Linked DNA regions of Homo sapiens. The protein of the gene in region 2 purifies or fractionates together with the protein of the main gene of each other region. This does not show direct contact. Each region holds a gene or a part of one and is shown on either strand. Other genes may lie near its edges.

Region 1 (7,028 bases), on a different chromosome or scaffold from region 2:
CTATAGCTACCATAGACAGTGATTCCTCTGATGGATCTGGGCAAAGTAAATTGAAAACCTTCTGGAAAGGATTCATCATTCTAGATGCCATTAAGAACATTTGTGATTCATGGGAGATCAAAGTATCAACATGAATAGGAGTTTGAAAGATGATTCCAGCCCTCACAGATGACTTTGAGGGATTCCAGACTTCAATGGAGGAAATAACTGCCGATGTGGTGGAAACAGTAAGAGAACTAGAATTAGAAGGGGAGTCTGAAGATGTGACTCAATTCCTGCAATCTCATAAGAAAACTTTAACTAATGAGAAGTTGTTTCTTATGGACGGGAAAAGAACGTGGTTTCTTGAGATGGAATCTACTCCTGGTGAAGATGCTATGAACACTGTCAAAATGACAACAAAGGATTTAAAATATGACAGAAGCTTAATTGATAAAGCAGGGTTTGAGAGGACTGACTCCAATTTTGAAAGAAGTCATACTGTGGGTAAAATGCTATCAAATAGCATCATGTGCTATAGAGACATCTTTTATGAAAGGGAGAGTCAACTAATGCAGCAAACTTCATTATTATCTTATGAAATTGCGATAGCCACCCCAACCTTCAGTAACTACTACCCTGATTGGTCAGCACCCATCAACATCGTGGCAAGACCCTCTACCAGCAAAAAGACTATGACTTGCTGAAAGCTGAGATGATTGTTAGCATTTTTTAGCAATAAATATTTTTAATTAAGGTATGTATGTTTTTTAGACAATTCTATTACACATTTTATAGACTACAGTATAGTATAAACACAGCTTTTTTTTTTTTTTTTTTTTTTTTTTAAGAAATGGGGTCTCATGCTGTCATCCAGGCTGGAGTGCAGTGGTGCAATCATGACTCACTGCAGCCTCAAACTCCTGAGCTCAAGTGATCCTCCCAAGTAGCTGGGACTACAGGCCTGTGACATCACACCCGGCCAAAACGCATAACTTTTATATGCAATGGGAAACAAAAAAATGTGTGTGACTCACTCTATTGTGATATTCAGTTTACTGCAGTGATATGGAACTAAGCCCACAATATCCCTGCGGTATGGCTGTACAGTATAAGAATCACCTGAAGGGCTTATTAAAAACAGCTTGCTTGACCCCCTCCCTTAGAGATTCCGATTCAGTAGATCTGGGTTGGTCAAGAATTTGCCTTTCTAACAAGCTCCCAGCTGAGGCTGAGGCTGCCATTCAACATACTACCAAGTAGCACTGGCATAGAGAGATCCCTGGAATAAAATGTACCTACTTGTGTGTGTGTGTGTATGAATGTGTGTGTGTGTGTGTGTGTGCGCATGTGCATGTGCGTGTGTGTGTGTGTGTACAGTCTTGCTCTGTTGCCTGGGCTGGAGTGCAGTGGCGTGATCTCGGCTCACCGCAACCTCCGCCTCCCAGCTTTCAAGCGATTCTCCTGCCTTAGCCTCCTGAGTAGCTGGGATTATGGGGTGCGCCACATCGCCTGGCTAGTTTTTGAATTTTCAGTAGAGACTGGATTTCACCATGTTGGCTAGGCTGGTCTTGAACTCCTGGCCTCAAGGGATCCACCTGCCTCAGCCTCCCAAAGTGCTGGGATTACAGGCATGAGCCACCATGCCCAGCCCCTACTTGTATATCACAAAAGTGAGATGATTACTTTTCAACTTTCTTCTTTGTATTTTTTAGGTATTTAAATTTTTTTACAATGAATGTTCCATCTTTACCCAAACAATAAAATCTTTATTGTAAAGAAAGTTAGAAGCAAGAAACATTAACATTTTTTATAACTACAATTTGTATAAAAGCTTTCTCTGTGATCTTTAGTTTTTCTTTCTTCCTCTGAAAAGCTGAATCGTGTTTAATTAAACTCTCAAAAGTATCAAGTTTTTGTCTATAAAATGGCAAAACTGGCTATGATGAAATAAACTGATATTTGCTATTTCTAATAAAAGCATACAATATATTTTTCTTTCTTACCAGATTCAAATATTTAACACCAACATATTAGTCCAAGTCCTATCATCAGTCAGATTTATCAGAAAGGTATGAAAACCCATGCCTACTATAAGGACCAAAATAGCCTAATTCAATACTACTTTGAAAACATGGGGATGATGTTATTATGTAATTGTTTTAAGTACAATAACCACTGATCACATTTGAACTCTCAGGATACTTCAATATTTCTTTTGGACAACTATGACCTGTTGAGTAAATTACCCCCAAATACTTTAATATAGTTTTACAAATCGCCCCAATGCCAGAGACCCAGATCAAAAAAAAAAATAATGGTATGGGTCAGATTCACAGAATAAGCACTAACTTTTATGCAAAATGAAAATAAAGATTTTATCTAAAAGTTATTTGGGGAAAATAAGCAGACTTTATCAAGAATTAGAGCTTGGTAAGAAGGTAACAGAAACCCATTGTTAGAAACAGGTTGACTCTGTGTAGCTTTCCATAGTAGAGTTCAGAGTTTCCTGTCATGATTCCCTTATCAATGCAGTGTAATAACTACTTACACAGCACTTACATTGTATTAGGTATTATAAGTAATCTACAGATGATTTAAAGTATATGGGAGGATGTGCATAGCTTATAGGCAAATACTACACCATTTTATGTAAGGGACTTGAACATTAATAGATTTTGGTATCCTCAGAGATTCCGGAACTAATACCCCATGGATGCCAAGGGACAACTGTACTTAGAGGTAGAACGTCTCTGCTCTTCCTACATGTCCTTATTTTTAACAACTTCTGTTCTTACAAATAATCCTAAGTCAATCAATAAAACTTCAAATTCTATTAACAGCTTAAAAGTACCAAGAAATACTCTGTTCATTCATTCAACTGCCAAAGAAAATGACAACCGAGTACTTTTCCTCTTTTAAACCAAAAAAAGTTTTTGGTTTAATACTAACAAAAGCTTTAATCCTCATTTTAGATATTCCTCTAATACATCTATTTACAATATATCACAGAACTATATTCTGGTTATTAATAATCTCACTTCTTACCAGGGTCTGCTAATCCAGTGGTCTCTAACAGTATGTAATCAAATTTCCCCTTCTTTTGCATCAAATTCTCAATAGCTCTAAGGCCACTGTCCCTGGAGAATACCAAAACATAATTTACAGTTAATTACCTAAATATTTTGAAGTGATTATTATAAACACTTTAAAATATATTCAACAACCCGAGACAAAAGTACCCTTGGGAATGTGAAAATTTAACTCACTTCTAACCTTCTAACAAAATGTCCGTCCCATATTTACCAGTGAGAAAACAATAGATGCATATATATAATAGGTAAAAAGAAATCATATACATAATACTTTATCAAAATTAAAAGCAGAGGAAACTTTATCTGACCAAGTATCTTTTTATAGCTTTATGAAATTTTTAAAAACCAACATACAAAATAATGATAAAATGTATTAACTATAGTAGTTTAATATAATAGCTAAAGAGACACTGATATTAAACACCATATAATTCTATTTTACATTAGGATGCAAGGTTTTAATTTCCTTTTTTCTTATTTTATCAAAAGTGAAGGAAAATCCTTAATAGATTATATTTTGGTTGTTCAAGAAAGTCTGTTATAATTTTATCCTTGCCAAAACATTTGACACAAAGTCAAATACCTAAGGGAGTAAATGATGCCGAAGAGATTTAATTCACTAGAATACACAAAATTAACAGTACAAGTAGTCATTTTTATAATTCATTCAACAAATATTTGAGTGCTACTATGTGTTGGGTAACTCTTCTAGGGTCTATGGTAGACTAGTGAACACTGTCCTTGAAAACTTAACTAGTAGAACATAACGTAAGGTTTTTCTCTTTTTTGATAGTCATTTATTTTTTTTATAAGATTGAACACTTAGAAGTATGACCAATGACAGATTAAATTCAGAATAATCATTTTTTACATATGAGACTTTCATGCACTAGAGATTAAATAAGCCCTGACATCAAAAGCAATAAAAACTCAATAAAAGGACCAAAACATTAGAGCAGATAGAAAAGACAGCAAGAAACACTTTAAGAAAATGCTTCCTAATAAGTTTATTTTCTATTTGTTTGAAAATACAATGAAGCAAACTGTGTAAATTCAGTTAAATTACTCAAGAAAATTAAAGCTGGAAATATAATCAATAAACATTTCTAGTAAACCATGTACACAGTAAACACATTCCTCACTTCACTGAACAGCAGAGGCAACCGTTTCTAAGTTCCAGCCACTCTTCATAGAGCTCTCCACCTTGGCTGACAGCTAAGGATTTCTCCAGCGCACTTCCTAGAATAATTAACAAACAGCACTCTTTAGCTTATGTCCATTAGCCAAAAAAAAACAAAGATGAGGATAACTCAATAATGGAGATCTTAAAGCAGAAACTGCATTTTATAACTTATATTCTTTCATTTTATTCATGCAGCCTCGATATCTAAATTACAGTACACTACATTATTTTAGCTTTTATTTAAGATGACTTAAGCCCTGAAAAAGACACATCCTAAACTGATAAACATACCTACTTCCTCCTTAGGCCTCTTACTTGGCCACCCCCATTTCTTAATAAAGTAGCTATCTTGAAGGCATTTTTTTCTTGTCCAGGGTAAACTTTCTAAATAGACCAGTATGTTTTATATACTGGATTTTGTATGCCCTTCAACCTCTTAAGAGACTGCCTTATCTATCTTTTTCTTTTCATTCTTCTTCTAAATTGTTTCTGTTAGACAAACTGCTGAATATTCCCAATGAGTAAAAACCCTAGTTCATCTTGAGGAAGGTTTTTGGCCAGTGTACCACGTGCTCATTTAAAAATTAAACTTATAGGGAGGCCAAGGCGGGCGGATCACGAGGTCAGGAGACCGAGACCATCCTCGCTAACACAATGAAACCTCATCTCTACTAAAATTACAAAAAATTAGCCAGGTGTGGTAGCGGGTGCCTGTAGTCCCAGCTACTCAGGCGGCTGAGGCAGGAGAATGGCGTGAACCCGGGAGGCGGAGGTTGCAGTGACCCGAGACTGCGCCACTGCACTCCAGCCTGGGCAACACAGCGAGACTCCATCTCAAAAAAAAAAAAAAACCTAAACTTTTAGTCAAATTCACATATTTTCCTAGCAATACTTACTTAAGAAAGAATAAACTACATTTGAAATGCTTGTTATCTATAAGAATTATTTTAAATGTTTTACTTTTCCTCTAATAAAGAAATATACCAAACAGTGAAGTTCTAAAAGCCCACTAAGCAAATGAGCTCCCATAAAATCGAGTAGTTTTACACTTACATATTTTTTATATTTCAGCTAGGTATTAATAAAGAGCTTCTAAAGAGGTTGCTACAGAATTTGGACTATATACAGAACATTAATGAAACATGAAGAAAAGTATTGAGAATGCTGTGAAAAATAAAATTGCAAAAATGATCCAGGAAAAAATAAAGAAAATAGTAAGAATAAATGTAATCAGTGTGCAATAGGTTATTTAATAAGATGATGAAAAAAACAGTCTGTTATTAGAAATCTCAGGATTTTTGCCTAAAAAGCACTTTTCTCTTTCGTTTATTAAAACCAGAAATCGAATATAACTGGCTTCCCATCCTGTTCATAAAACCTAGCTCTTTTACTTTTTACAACTGAAAAAAAATAGTACATTTTAAAAGAAATCGTTTAATAGATATTGTTTTTTGGCTAGAAGTAAGCTTTGATTACAATTCATACTTATGAAGAAAAACTTCTATAAAGATAACAGAAGTATTGTGTCTAGAGCTATTTTTTTGACTACAGTTTAATATTTCAGTTGAGAAGTTAAGCACACTTATTTTCACAGATAACTTAAAATACATGAGGATAAAGACCATATGTTTACCTTTATTTTTAAAATATTGAGTTTTAACTGCATTGCAGATAATAAACATTAAACAAAGTTAACTAATAACAGAAGCATTTTCAAGTATTTTTCATGAGTTGCAATAGAGTCCATACAAAAGTGCTTTCCTAATTCCTAAAAAAAACATTTTTTCGCCAGGCATGGTGCCTCATGCCTGTAATCCCAGCAACTTTGGGAGGCCGAGGCGGGTGGATCACAAGGCCAGGAGCTCAAGACCATCCTGGCCAACATGGCGAAACCCTGTCTCTACTAAAAATACAAAAATTATCTGGGCATGGTGGCGCACGCCTGTAGTCCCAGCTACTCAGGAGGCTGAGGCAGGAGAATCACTTTAACCCAGGAGACAGAGGTGGCAGTGAGCTGAGATTGCACCACTGCACTCCAGCCTGGCGACAGAGAGAGACTCCATCTCAAAAAAAATAAAATAAAATAAAAAATAAACGTTTTTTCATATGTCTAGATTTTTACTTCTGGAGTCATTTATTTCATGTAAAAATGTAGTTTAATTCTGTTAATAAGAATTCCAAAGTTATACAAAATAAAATTTTATTAAAACTAATTTCAGTATCTCAACCCATATAAATCTTAACAGAAATTAATCCAACTTTTCTAAAGCTATCCACATCAATACAATACCTTGCATTTTCATTTTTAAATATGGAATATCAATTCACCAGAGGAATAAACAGTCACACAAAATCTTGCAACATGACATTTATTGAACTTTACTTACCTTCCCCAAATTCATTTAAAATGACCGCTACTCTTTTACTATGTTGCTCTGTCAAAATATAGTTCAGAAGTGTTGTCTTCCCAGCACCTATAAAACATATTTTTTGTAAATAAAAAAATTCAAAATAATTTTAAAGATACAAAAAACATATAAAGAATCCTAACGTTTTTGAGAATTTGCGTGCTATTTTTCATATATTATTTTAGCATAGAATATCCTAGAGGATAAGATTAAAGCATCCTTCGAAACCTGTTGCAAAATACTTTATGTAGACATAAAATTTTATAAATATTTACAAACACTCCTACAAGTTGAAACAGCTTCTTCAACCTAGCCTAACCTTCCCTAAAATTTACACACAATCTTTTATTTATAATGACCTTT
Region 2 (7,028 bases):
CAAAAACGCCAAGGAAAACCTGATTTCTTAAGAAAGTAACTTCAATTACTATAAGATTCTCAATTTATGATTTAAGTATTTCTCTAGATATGTTTTATATCATACTGAACAATGCAAATTACCAACATATCTTTCAACCCAATTTCAACATTTTACCATATTTCTCATATTTTAGAAAAGATCAAACCTAAGTAATTTTTTAAATGTAGTCTTCACCAAAGATAAAATTAGAATCAAATGCAATAATATAGAAGAGAAATACTACAATGGGCACTGGAGATCATGACAAAAGAACTCAGGAACTTTGAAGTGTAGGAGTAGAGGTGATACTCAAGATATTTAGCTATTTAACAACTGGCAGGGCATAAGGACCATCTAGTCAGAATAGACGCTTGCTGTAGCAATGGGTCCAGAAACACTGGTAGAGTGTATTGGTAGATACCACCTGAGCATTGCTACCAGTTGATAGTAATGTTCAAATGCTATTGATTTTGTTTTCAGAAAAACTTTGCAATAACTAACCAGAAGCATCTCAATCTAGTTTCTCCATTTTGTCCCACATTCAACCTCTATCAATTACAGAGGAATGCATTTTCTGGTTGTACTCTAATACCCTGAGGACTGCAGTCATGTTAGATATACACTGGTGAATAATCTGCACATTATCTTGGGTAAATACATGCAAATATACACCTGTTAAAAAAACTGACTTCTCTGCACAAGCATATATCATGAGGCTCCAGTATGGAATTGAAATGAGTTAAAATGACTACATTATTGCAGGATTGATGTTAACACCACTCTCACACAGCTACCTCACATTTTTAATCTTCATTTACATGTTTTGATTTCACATACATTATTTCTTTTTTATTCTTTTCCTTTATCTTTCTTTCTCCTCTTTTCCCCCTCTCTCTCCTCTCCTTCTCTCTCTGTCTCTCGATCTCTCTCTCTCTCTCTCTCTCTCTCCAGGATCTCATCTGTTTGAGGATGCAGGAGTACAAATGCAGGGGTACAAATGCAGGGGTATGACCTTGGCCTCAACTGTTTCCGGGATGCAGGGGTACAAATGCAGGGGTACGACCTTGACTTCCTGGACTCCAGTGATTCACTTCAGTTTCTTGAGTAGCTGGGGCCACAGGTCACCACAACTAGCTAATTTTTTCTTTTTTTCATTTTAGTAGGGATGAAGTCTCACTATATTGCCCAGGCTGGTCTCAACCCCTGGATTCAAGCAGTTTGCCTGCCTCAGAATCCCAAAATGCTGGGATTACAGGCATAAGCCACCATGCCCAGCCTGATACATTATTTCTTATTTCCTTTTGATATTAATTCAGAAAACGTGAAAATCTACTATTTTCTAAATAAGGTATAAAAAGCAAACAGTGTAGAAAAGAAGACAGAAACAGAACCACCTATTATAGTCCCCTGGAAATAATGTCATAACACAGGTATTCTCAAAATGGTCTGGAATCACAGAGATTTCCCAGTAGAGTACATGTTCCATTTCATCTTCAAAGACAACCAGGAGTTAAACAAGAGAATAAAGAAAGAATGCAAAGAATTCCATCCTTGAAAAATGTACTTGCATAAAAATATAGTTCACTAGAGACTGGAAGACAAGATAAAATAAAAAATGATGGCCGGTAGTCCCAGCCACTCGGGGAGGCTGAGGCAGGAGAATCGTCTGAATCCATGAGGTGGAGGTTGCAGTGAGCTAAGACTGTGCCACTCCCCTCCAGCCTGGGTGACAGAGGGAGACTCCATGTCAAAAACACCAAAAAATCTGATTAAGGAGCTAATTAAATACTAAAGAGTATGAACATTGATCCCATGAAATGCCATAGAATTGTGCTACCCAATAGAACTTTCTGCAGTGATGGACATATTCTGCATTGTTCTGTCCAATACAGTTGCCACTAACAACATGTGATTATTTAGCCCTCAAAATGTGGCTAGTTGGCGGGTGAAGTGGCTCACACCTGTAATCCCAGCACTTTAGGAGGCCAAGGCAGGCAGATCACTTGAGCTCAAGAGTTCGAGACCAGCTTAGGCAACATGGCAAAACCAAATTTCTATAAAAAATACAATAAATAGCTGGGTGTGGTGGCGTGCGCCTGTAGTCCCACCTACTTGGGAGGCTGAGGTGGGAGGATGGCTTGAGCCCGGGAGGCAGAGGTTGCAGTGAGCTGAGCCAGACCTTGTCTCTAAATAAATAAAAGAAATGCAGCTAGTATATCTAATGGACTGGAATTTTACATTTTATTTTTCATTAACTTTGTTTGAGACAAGGTCTTGCTCTGTCATGAAAGGTGGAGTGCAGTAGTGTGATCATCACACACTGCAGTCTTAATATCCTAGGTTTGAGTGATCCTCCCACTTCAGCCTCCCAAACAGCTGGAACTTACAGGCCTGCACTGCTATACCCAGTATGTGTATATACATATATATTACACACACACATATATATACACACACACATATACCCCCTACACATGTGTGTGAATATTATACACACACACACACACACATATATATATATAAATATAATAAGCAGGATCTCACTATATTGCCCAAGCTGGTCTCAAACTCCTGGACTCAAGAGATCCTCCCACCTTGGCCTCCCAAAGTGCTGGGATTACAAACGTAAGCCACTGTGCCCAGGTAACATAAGTTTTTAAATAGCCACCTGTACCTACTGGCTACCATATTGGACAGTGTAGCAATAAAGGATTATAAGCACACACATAGTATGATAGATTTACATCTCAGAGGGAACACCATCTGTTCAGTGTTGAAGGTAAATTGAAAGAGAGACAGGTGAAGTGGAGAAAAGTTAGAAACAATAGCACAATAATCTAGTGATGTGAACCTAAACTAATGTAAGGTCAATTGAGCTCATAAAGCAGCAATATAGTCAAGAAATATTTAGCAATTGAAATTGGATGACTGTATGTGAATGGTAAGCAAAAGAGAGACATGGGATGACTTAGGTTTCTAGTTTGAGAAACTGTGTAGATGATGGTGTTATTCTCCTTATAAAGAGAGTACAGCAAGATTTGTCCAGGGATAAAAATACTGTTTCAAGCTTAAACTTGAAAACAAGTCTGAATCATCTATCCCGTAAGAAGTTGGCTGGCTATACATGTCTGTAACTCAGAAAGTAATTAACAGCTTAGAGGTGGCCATTAAGGAAATGAATTTTGGATGGATCACCCAGGGAACATGGACAGTGAAAGCAGGGCCCAGAAAACACTGTCAGTTGGGAGGTGAAAGTCATTCTCTTCCACAAAAATTCAATGCATCTCGTTGTATTCTAGGAATCAGATTGGGCCTTTAGGGACCAAAGATGAGTAAGACAGAGGCCCTGCTCTCCAGACATTAGCTTGTAGAAGAGTCCTAATTAGGAAGAAGAGTTCATGGAATAAGAAATTCATGAAGAAGCTAGGCAAGAAATACTCAAGGAGGTAAGAAGAAAATCAGAAGAGATGTCTCAGAAGTCAAAGTAAGAACCAGTGCACTGAGTGCTACAGAAAAGGGGAAAATATCCATGAAACTGAGACAATGTGCTTATTAACCATCTTCTGCATGAGTAATTCTAGAGTGGTAGAATTAGAAGCCAGACTACAAAAAGCATAAGAGAGAATGAAAGGCATGGAAATGGGAACATTTCAATGGAAAATCTCTCTCCTGTCCTATGACAAGAGCTTTATTTAGATTCCCTCCTTAATGTCTTCTTAGGTATCTTCCTTTCCCATATCTTCAATATTTCCTTCTGTACTTGCTCTTTCCCCACTAATGGCATTTAAACAAGACTGGATAGTTCATTCTTAAATGGACCCCTTTCTACAGCTCTCATCCAATACTTCTCCCTGCCTGCACAGTTAAGAGTGAAATGAAATATATCCAAGCAGAAAAGGTCAACTGAAAATAGATTCAGTTACAGGGCAAGTTTGTAAAAGATTTATGCTGATTAGAGATAAATATTTAGTCTTCTACAAAAATATAATAGTTTTTGTTATGTTATGAAGTGGCTTTTCAGATGGCTTTGTCTAACAGGAATGATATTTAAGAGCAGCCTTCTCCAAATAGCTTCAGCTCTTGCTGCCACATTCCCAAAAGTTTAGTTTATTACCACAAAAAGCAGTGGTACTCCTTCACTAGATAAGCTCCTTGAACACAAATATGATGTCTTTATTATCTTTGAAGCCCTAATATTCAGAAGTTTGAGAGATATAACAGTCATTCAAATTTATCAGAAACAGATTTGTGTGGGCTTAAAGGTGGCCCATATGATAACTTGTCAAACTACTTTACATAGTCCACATTCAGCATTGTCCTACAAATCTCCTGAGCCAGGGTGTCATACAAGCAAATGGCTATTGATGTGGTGAAGCAAAGATCTCCTCAGCTCTTGAGATCACTAGGCAGTGTCTAAGGTGGATAGTATCAGGGCAGGTAGTCTCATACATTTACCCCGTATAGATATCAATGTCTATATGTGGCATTACATGAGCAAGCATTGCTCTGGCCTCAACGCCCCCAACAAACTAGTACATCTCCACTTTTACCTCCCAGAACTGCACACATAACAAATATCACTTAAAAACAGAGCATTCTATTATCACTTCACTTATGATATGATAATCATATCAGGGATTATGATCCCTGACATATCAGTTATGTCATCATCTTGGTATTTTGGCACTTGACCACATAGCAAACTAACTTGACACTTTAAAATATTTTAGGTGTATGAGTAAACATTTTGTGAAGGGAAGTTTCACCTTTGCAAAAAAATATTCATTACTTGCGAACTAGTACTTGTTAAATACATTTCCAAGTTTCTGGGTCTCTTTATATAGAAAACATTTGATATACACTGACTAGCTAAATAAATAATGGCAAACCAGGACAATTTACACATGTTAGGAAAACTCCACTTTCCAAGGAGATATGAACAATTATAATGGAAGTTCCATGAATGCAGGGACTTTCCTTGTGCACTACTAACCCTCATCACAGAGCTTAGTAATGGCACCCAATAGGTGGTAAATAATATTTACTGAATTAGTGACAGTCACTAAATACATAAATGGTTAAATAGTCAAAAGTACTCCTGGTTTTGCTTAAATTAAGTGATTTCTATGGATGTTTTATAATTTTGTAAATAGGGCTGGTACCACAAGACTTCTAGGAGAAAAAGAAAACAACTCATATTCTTAAGTAACCAGACAAAAGAGAAATGGTGATTAAAGTCACATGCATAAATCATTAGTGACTTGCTCCACTAAGGTGGAAATATGTGTGACCATATTAACAGACGTTTCTTTAAAATATTACCATTCCCTGACTATGTGTAGTAAATCAGGAAAATCTTTGGATGAGGGAAGGAATGCAGGGAGTTGAGGTAGGAAACAAAATTATTTCACCTTGGCACAAATATGATGATCAATAAATGTTAACTCACTTTTCAAAAAGGTAAAATTTGGAGGTTTAACATCCAACAAAATCATGTGTTTTAAACAGAAAGGCACTGGGCATATACTATCCACTTTATTTTTCTCCATAAATAAGCTAGCCATCTTTATGTGCAATATCGCTTTAAATTGGTTACTTTAAATGATCACAGGAAGCAGCATGATGGTTGAACATGTTAGGTAAGTTCCAGCAGAGCTGGGTTTGGGCAGGTCCTGTATGTGCACGCTTGGGCAAGTTATTTAAACTTGCTCAGCCTAAATTTCCTCAGTAAGAATGATATTACCTACTTTGAAGGTTTTTGCAAGAATTTCAAAATGCACATAAAGTATGCGGTATTATATCTGACACATAAATTATCAATTAACTATCAGCTATTAGGATGATAAGTAAAAGCTCAAAAATAATCTTTCAGTTACAAAGTATGGTTCTTTGAAAAAACCTAACGTTGTGTCTTAGCGTATAGGGTTGGGTAAGCATTCAAATTAAATTAATATTCTTTATTTCCTATATAATATGTATTAATAGGATCTGCATTTTAATGCCTTTTCATAGCATCCTTTATGTACTTATCTATGTGATTATTTGGTTAATGCCCCTCTGCTCCTCTAGTATATAAGTGTTATAGAAGCAGAAATGTTTGTTTTGCTCAAAACTGTATCCCCAGTGCCCAGTACTGGTCAGTTGAATAAATATTGACTGCTTAAATAAAGGCTATCATAATAAATTTCATGCTCATCTCCACTATATGAGCATGAGCACCATATTTTCTTGAAATTGGAAGAGACTTGCTAAAGAGCATAGAGATTTTTTTTAAAAAAAGTAGAGGGTTAAACTTTTAAGCATCGATTTCCTTCCAATATACCAAATTGAATAAAAAACGAAAAACCAACGACATGGCATGAAAAAGGAAATAATTCCCTGCTTTTAAGGCAAGAATCATTATTCAGCTATGACAAAAATTGCTTTATATAATTACCATACGTGCTAAAACCAACAACCATCTACAGTGATTTCCCCCCACCCCCGCTCCCTGGCCTTATACATTTTACTGTGGAGAGAATGTCCTACTGAGAGGAAGGAAATAAAAGTATTAATTGAGATCTTCGCAGTTCTTTGTTCCGTCAGTAAACAGCAATTATCCTTAAATTTCCAAATCCTTACCACCTACCTGTTCAGCAATATAATACATGAAGAGTGCTCATCCATTAGGCAACTGCTTATTCAGTGCCCATCATATATTGCACATGATGTTTAGCACTGAGGATATAGGGGAGAATAAGACAGAAAAGTCTCTTTTCATAGAGATTAAGTGTTCATTTTAGGCAATCTACTTTGTCCCTACCGTGTTCCTTGCATATATATATATACACTTACATATATATATATATGTTTTGTATTTCTACAGTGAGAACCTGACTGTTCTTTGGAATGTTTCCAGACTCAAAAAGGAAGTTATTATTACCTACATATTCATTATAAATGAATTAGATAAAAACAAAACTATTTGAAAGTCTCATGTAGTTCAATGTAATAAAATTTTACAAGTA
Region 3 (7,028 bases), on a different chromosome or scaffold from region 2:
CAGCCGTCGTATGGTTTAAGCGTAACCCGCCTCGTGCGTTTGGTTGGGTGTTGTATGTAATTTGAGCCAGCCCGCAGCCCTTGTGTGCCATGCGCAGTGTTAGCTGAGTGGCTGGGCCCGCTCAGGAGCCTTGGGGGTCAAGCTCTGGCCTAAGGAATGGGGAGGGCACAGCCTACTCCCACCCCCAGGGCCACTTGTGTGTGGTCCTGACTCTCCACCCTTCTTCCTCCTTGACATGGCTTTTGGAGGCTTCCTCCCTTCACTTACTTAGAATGTTCTGGGCCGGGCGCAGTGGCTCACGCCTGTGATCCCAGCACTTTGGGAGGCCGAGGCGGGTGGATTACCTGAGATCGGGAGTTCGAGATCAGCCTGGGCAACACGGGGAAACCCGTCTCTACTAAAAATACAAAATTAGCCGGGTGTGGTGACACATGCCTGTAGTCCCAGCTACTCAGGAGGCTGAGGCAGGAGAATCGCTTGAACCTGGGAGGTGGAGGATGCGGTGAGCCAAGATCACGCCATTGCACTCCAGCCTGGGCAACAAGAGTAAATCTCCGTCTCACCAAAAAAAAAAGAAAAGAAAAAAGAATGTTCTGGACTGGGTGAGGGCACTGTGAATATTTGGTACTGACTGACAGTTGCAGAATCATGTGGTACAAGCAAGACTCTTGGTTGCAAGTTTCAGAAACCCTCCCAGGTGGGCTCAGTGGCAGGAAGGCCCCATGTCTCCAAGGTGGGCTCAGTGGCAGGGGAGGCCGCATGCTGGCCCCATGTGTCCTCCGCAGGGTACACTTGAGATCATTTTCTTTTATTGAAAAGAGTCTGGCTCTGTCGCCCATGTTGAGTGCAGTGGAGCGATCACGACTCACTGCAGCCTTGAACTCCTGGGCCTACGTGATCCCCCTGGCCTAGGCCTCCCAGAGTGCTGGGACGACAGGCATGAGATAATGTGCCCAGCCTTAGACTGATCTTAAAAGTAGACCGGGCCGGGCACGACGGCTCACGCCTGTAATCCCAGCACTTTGGGAGGCCGAGGTGGGCAGATCACCCGAAGTCAGGAGTTCGAAACCAGCCTGACCAACATGGCAAAACCCCATCTCTACTGAAAATACAAAAACTAGCTGGGCATGGTGGCGCGTGCCTGTAATCCCAGCTGCTCAGGAGGCTGAGGCAGGAGAATCACTTGAACCTGGGAGGTGGAGGCTGCAGTGAGCTAAGATTGCACCACTGCACTCCAGCCTGGACGACAGAGCGAGACTCTATCTCAAAAAAAAGTAGACCCTTAGGTTGCTGTGGCGAGCCAGCCTTGTAGCCGACCCTCTTCCCACATAGGACTTGTGACTGAGGGCACCAGCCTCTGAAGCTCCGTGCTGTTCTCTTGGCCATGTGACTGAGGGCACCAGCCTCTGCAGCTCTGTGCTGTTCTCTTAGCCACCAGGGTTCTGTCATCCTTGCTTCTTTGTACCTCTCCTGGACCCAGAGCCTGAAGTGCGGTGGCTGCGCTCACCCAGGGAGGGGTGCGGGGCCTGCGCTCACCCAGGGAGGGGTGCGGGGCAGTGCAGAGCGCAGGTAAGCAGGGAGGGGTGCGGGGCAGTGCAGAGCGCAGGTAAGCAGGGAGGGGTGCGGGGCAGTGCGGAGGGCAGGTGAGCGGGGAGGGGTGCGGGGCAGTGCGGACTACAGGTGAGCGGGGAGGGGTGCGGGGCAGTGCGGACTGCAGGTGAGCCGGGAGGGGTGCGGGGCAGTGCGGACTGCAGGTGAGCCGGGAGGGGTGCGGGGCAGTGCGGACTGCAGGTGAGCCGGGAGGGGTGCGGGGCAGTGCGGACCGCAGGTGAGCGGGGAGGGGTGCGGACTGCAGGTGAGCCGGGAGGGGTGCGGGGCAGTGCGGACTGCAGGTGAGCGGGGAGGGGTGCGGGGCAGTGCGGACTGCAGGTGAGCCGGGAGGGGTGCGGGGCAGTGCGGACTGCAGGTGAGCGGGGAGGGGTGCGGGGCAGTGCGGACTGCAGGTGAGCCGGGAGGGGTGCGGGGCAGTGCGGACTGCAGGTGAGCGGGGAGGGGTGCGGGGCAGTGCGGAGCGCAGGTGAGCCGGGAGGGGTGTGGGGCAGTGCGGAGGGCAGGTGAGCCGGGAGGGGTGCGGGGCAGTGCGGACTGCAGGTGAGCCGGGAGGGGTGCGGGGCAGTGCGGAGCGCAGGTGAGCCGGGAGGGGTGTGGGGCAGTGCGGACTGCAGGTGAGCGGGGAGGGGTGCGGGGCAGTGCGGACTGCAGGTGAGCGGGAAGGGGTGCGGGGCAGTGCGGAGCGCAGGTGAGCGGGGAGGGGTGCGGGGCAGTGCGGAGCGCTGGTGAGCCGGGAGGGGTGCGGGGCAGTGCGGAGCGCAGGTGAGCGGGGAGGGGTGCGGGGCAGTGCGGAGCGCTGGTGAGCCGGGAGGGGTGCGGGGCAGTGCGGAGCGCAGGTGAGCGGGGTGGGGGGGGTTGCGGGGCAGTGCGGAGCGCAGGTGAGCTGGGAGGGGTGCGGGGCAGTGCGGAGCGCAGGTAAGCAGGGTCTCTGGGGCTTGGTTAGTTGGTTCTAGGTCATCAGGCCTGTGAGGCCCAGATTCTGCCACAGAGTAGCTGCCCCCTGGCGGCTCTCCTGGTACCAACCGCCTTCACTTCCAAGTTGACAGCTTGATCATCAACATTTGTCCACTTTGGCTAGTTCCCAGCGTGAAGTAAAAATGGTCAGAACCACCACAGCAACCCTTAGGGGCTCTTCGTATTTGCCGAGCATGGTCAGTAGTACTTTATGTGGATTGTGTGGTCCTCACAGTAGCCCTGGAAAGTGGGTACTATAATTACTTCCATCTCGCAGAAGAGAAAAGTGACGTTTGCAGAGATTAGTTGCTTGCCAGAGGTCGAGTGGTGGAGTGGGGGCTGGGAGCCCCAGGGAGGTGTCCTTAGGGCCCCTGTCCTGGCCCCCGTTGCTCTGCGCATTGTGCCCTGGAGGAGATGTCTGAGCATATAAGGTAGTAGAGGCTGTTGGGGCGGAGAGTGACAGGCCAACACCACTTCATGCTCAGCTGCGGCTGACCCTTGGCAGGAACAAGCCTGTGTTACTTCTGTGGTTTCTGTCTGTTAACATACAGGGAGGTCACTCTTGGGGAGGACCCCATGGGTGGGCTCACCATTGGGGGAGGTCACTGTCGAGGGAGGACCCCCTGGGGTGAATTAGACGTTCGGGGAGGTCACTGTCCAGGGAGGACCCCCTGGGGTGAATTAGACGTTTGGGGAGGTCACTGTCGGGGGAGGACCCCCTTGGGGTGAATTAGACGTTCGGGGAGGTCACTGTTGGGGACGACCCCCGGGTGGGCTCACCACTGGGGGAGGTGACAGTTGGGCTGGGCCACTCCCCTTTCCTCCTCCTCCACTCCGTGGACTCCTGGTGAATTGCTCATGGTTGTCTGTGTGGGTGCGCATCCCCGTGTCCCAGTCCGTCTGTGCTGCTGTAACAGAACGTCGTACACTGGGGGCCTATAAACCACAGACGTTTGTTTATTCCTCACGGCTCTGCAGGCTGGAAGTCCAGGCGCAAGGCGCCGGCAGATCTGGTGTCTGGTGAGGTCCAGCACCTTCTCGCTGTGTCCTCACAGGGCAGAAGGGGTGAGGGAGTGCTCTCTGGGGCAGTAATCCCAGTCCTGAGGGCTCCACCTTCATGGCCTAGTCACCCCCAAGGAGGCCCCACCTCCTAACACCATCACCTTGGGTATTAGGATTTCACACAGGAATTTTGGAGGGGACACAGATTCATTCTGTAGTGTTGTGAATTATGTGTGTATTGAAAATGTTGGTATGTGGTATTTTACGTTAGAAAAGTGTCTGTTTCTTAAAAGAGGCCGAGTTGATTAAAAAAGATACTCAGATCTGCCTGTAGTGGTCCTGTACTGACCTCACTGTCCCCCGGCACTCTGTCCCGTCCCCAGCGTGCTCCGTGCATCCTACACGCATCCTGGTGAGAGGTGTCCTCAGCCCTTTGCATGGACGCTGGTGGGCTGTGTGGGGGAAGGTTGCCCAGCTCTGCTCATGGGGCCTGCAGGCTGCTCGGGGGCACCAGACTCTAGTGTCCCAAGTCCTCAGAGTGTCCCCTGGGGGTTTGTTTTATTTGGACATTTTGATGGGTTTAAAAAGTGTCAAGCTTTGATTTGTGCCTTTCTGAGTAGCGAGTTTGGTAATGCTTATTTGCTGCTCAGCCTCCCCTTCTGGCATTGCACATTCATATCCTGTGCCTGTTATTTTTTTATTCTTATTTTTTTGAGATAGAGTCTTGTTGTGTTGCCCAGGCTGTAGTACAGGGGTGTGATCTCAGATCCTGGCAACCTCCTCCTGAGAGCAGCCCCCGGGCAGAACTCCACCCCCATGACCCAATCAGATCTCACAGGAGAGCACTCACTATCCTGAGAGCAGCCCCTGGGGGAACTCCACCACCACAACCCAATCAGATCTCACAGGAGAGCACTCACTATCCTGAGAGCAGCCCCCCGGGGGAACTCCACCCCCACGACCCAATCAGATCTCACAGGAGAGCACTCACTATCCTGAGAGCAGCCCCGGGAGGAACTCCACACCCATGGCCCAGTCAGATCTCACTATCCTGAGAGCAGCCACGCCATGGGGAACTCCGCCCCATAATCCGGTCACCTCCCACCAGGCCCCTCCTCCAACATTGAGGGTCACAAGTGAACATGAGATTTGCATGGGGACGCAGATCCAAACCGTATGTGCTGTTATGAATAAAGATCCAAACCGTGTCCGCTGTTATGAATAAAGATCCAAACCGTATCCGCTGTTATGAATAAAGGTGCCGAGAACATTTTTTTTCAAGTCTTTTTGTGGACGTGTGTTTTTCTTTGTCTTGGGTAAAAAATACCAAGGAGTAGGATTGCTGATTTACAGGTTGGATTTAGGTTGAACTTCACATGAAACAACCAAACCTCCTTCCACGGTAGCTGCACCATTTTACATTTCCACCAGCTGCAGTGGAGAGTTCCTGGCTCTCCACTTCCTCACCAGCATTTCTTGTGGTCTCTCATTTTGATTACATCCATTCTTGTGAGTGTGCAGTGGTGTCGATCTCATTGTGATTTCATTGGAATTTCCCTGATGATGATGTTCAGCAATTTTTTTTTTTTTTTTTTTTTGAGAGGGAGTCTTGCCCAGGCTGGAGTGCAGTGGCTCCATCTTGGCTCACGGCAAGCTCCACCTCCCAGGTTCAAACAATTCTCCTGCCTCAGCCTCCCAACTAGCTGGGATTAAAGGCATGCACCACCATGCCCAGCTAATTTTGTATTTTTTAGTAGAAATGGGGTGTCACTATGTTGGTCAGGCTGGTCTCAAACTCCTGACCTCAGGTCACCCGCCGGCCTTGGCCTCCCAAAGTGCTGGGATTACAGGCATGAGCCACGGCGCCTGGCCTTTTTGTCCATTTTTTATTGGGCAGGGAGTTTCTGCTTACTCTGGATACAGGTCTTATGTTTATATATTTATATAATTTATGTGAGAAAGAGAAGGCAAGCCTTAGCTGTGGTCACTCTGCTGTCCCAGGCCAGGCTGCCTCAGGGAACCTGGGCCTTGAGATTTGACCTGGCTTGAGCATTTGATGTCTCTGTGCCTCCACTCCCCACCCCTCCACTCCCTGCCCTTGAGATGAGGTCTTGCTTTGTTGCCCAGGCTGGAGTGCAGTGGCATGATCACAGCTCACCACAGTCTTGAACTCCCGGACTCAAGCGATCCTCCCACCTCAGCCTCCCAGGTAGCTGGGACCACAGGCACGCACCACCACGCCTGGCTAATTTTTAATTTATTTCTGGTAGAGATGGAGTCTTGTTATGTTGCCTGTAGGCTGTTCTCAGAACTCCTGGGCTCAAGTGATTCTCCCACCTCGGCCTCCCAAAGTGCTGGGATTGCAGGTGTCAGCCACTGTGCCTGGCCTGTGCCTGTTCCTTAATTGGCAGAGTGTGTGCTGTAAAATGTATATAACAGGGTCTTGGAGGTACCCGACATGCCATTCTTTAATGTCTTATACGTTACTATTATTTTTAAATAAACTGTATTATTTTGAGTTCATTGTAGGTTCCCACGCGGCTGTGAGAAAAGATGGAGATCTTTTCTATTTTAGACCCTTGCCTGGTTTCCCCAGTGGTGACGGTCGGGATGCTAACCCTGGTGCAGGTGAGGCTGTGGAAGTCTCCATCCCCGTAGGGAGCCCTCATGCCACCTCTCAGCCACGCCATTTCCTTACCCTCTGGAAACCTCTAGTCTTTGCTCTGTCTGTGATTTTGTCATTCGAAGGATGCAGTGTAAGGGGAAGTGCAGAATTCTTCAGGTAATTGTGTGTCAGTAGCTTGTTTCCCGTGGTGAGACTCCTCTGCGTGAGTGTGCACGGCTTGCCCAGCCAGCCACCCGTGGAAGGACATCTGGGCTGTTTCCTGTTTTGGCTACTACAGATAAAGCTGCTGTGACACTTGCGTATAGGTTTTTGTGTGAATATACGTTTTCATTTCTGGGATAAATGTTTAAGAGTGCAGTTGCTGGTTCATGTGTGGTAATTATGTGTTTAGTTTGTTAGAAAACTGCCAGATTGTTTTCTTGAGTGGCCATACATTCCCACCAGCAATGTAGGAGCGTATCAGCCTGGTTAGGCTGCCATAACAAAATACTCCAGACTGAGTGGGGAGCAGTAGAAATTCACTCTCGCAGTTCTGGAGGCTTGAAGGCCAAGAGCAAGATGCTGTCAGTGCTGATTCCAGGAGAGGCCTCTTTTGCTGGTTTGCAGATGCTGCCTTTTTTTTTTTTTTTTTTTTGAGATGGAGTCTCGCTCTGTCACCCAGACTGGAGTGCAGTGGCGCAATCTCAGCTCACTGCAACCTCTGCCTCCTGGGTTCAAGCAGTTCTCTTGCCTCAGTTTCCTGAGTAGCTGGGACTACAGGCGCCCACCACCATGCGCCGCTGATTTTTGTATTTTTAGTAGAGACGGGGTTTCACCATGTTTCCCAGGTTGGTCT

What was found. The genes of interacting proteins can lie anywhere in the genome.
Region 1: the proteins of FAM174A (region 2) and ZNG1A purify together in Homo sapiens (affinity purification with mass spectrometry; 2 studies listed by BioGRID and IntAct, with this or other methods). This does not show direct contact.
Region 3: the proteins of FAM174A (region 2) and GAK purify together in Homo sapiens (co-immunoprecipitation; 3 studies listed by BioGRID and IntAct, with this or other methods). This does not show direct contact.

Annotation. Positions count from the first base shown.
Region 1 is NC_000009.12:169,054-176,081, forward strand, and holds part of ZNG1A (zinc-regulated GTPase metalloprotein activator 1A), read right to left. Parts: intron 6,732-7,028; coding exon 6,645-6,731; intron 4,314-6,644; coding exon 4,217-4,313; coding exon of another isoform or gene 4,213-4,216; exon of another isoform or gene 3,436-4,212; intron 3,120-3,435; coding exon 3,028-3,119; intron 1-3,027. UniProt on the Homo sapiens protein: Zinc chaperone that directly transfers zinc cofactor to target metalloproteins, thereby activating them.
Region 2 is NC_000005.10:100,538,350-100,545,377, reverse strand, and holds part of FAM174A (membrane protein FAM174A precursor), read right to left. Parts: intron 1-7,028.
Region 3 is NC_000004.12:922,314-929,341, reverse strand, and holds part of GAK (cyclin-G-associated kinase), read left to right. Parts: intron 1-7,028. UniProt on the Homo sapiens protein: Associates with cyclin G and CDK5. Seems to act as an auxilin homolog that is involved in the uncoating of clathrin-coated vesicles by Hsc70 in non-neuronal cells. Expression oscillates slightly during the cell cycle, peaking at G1.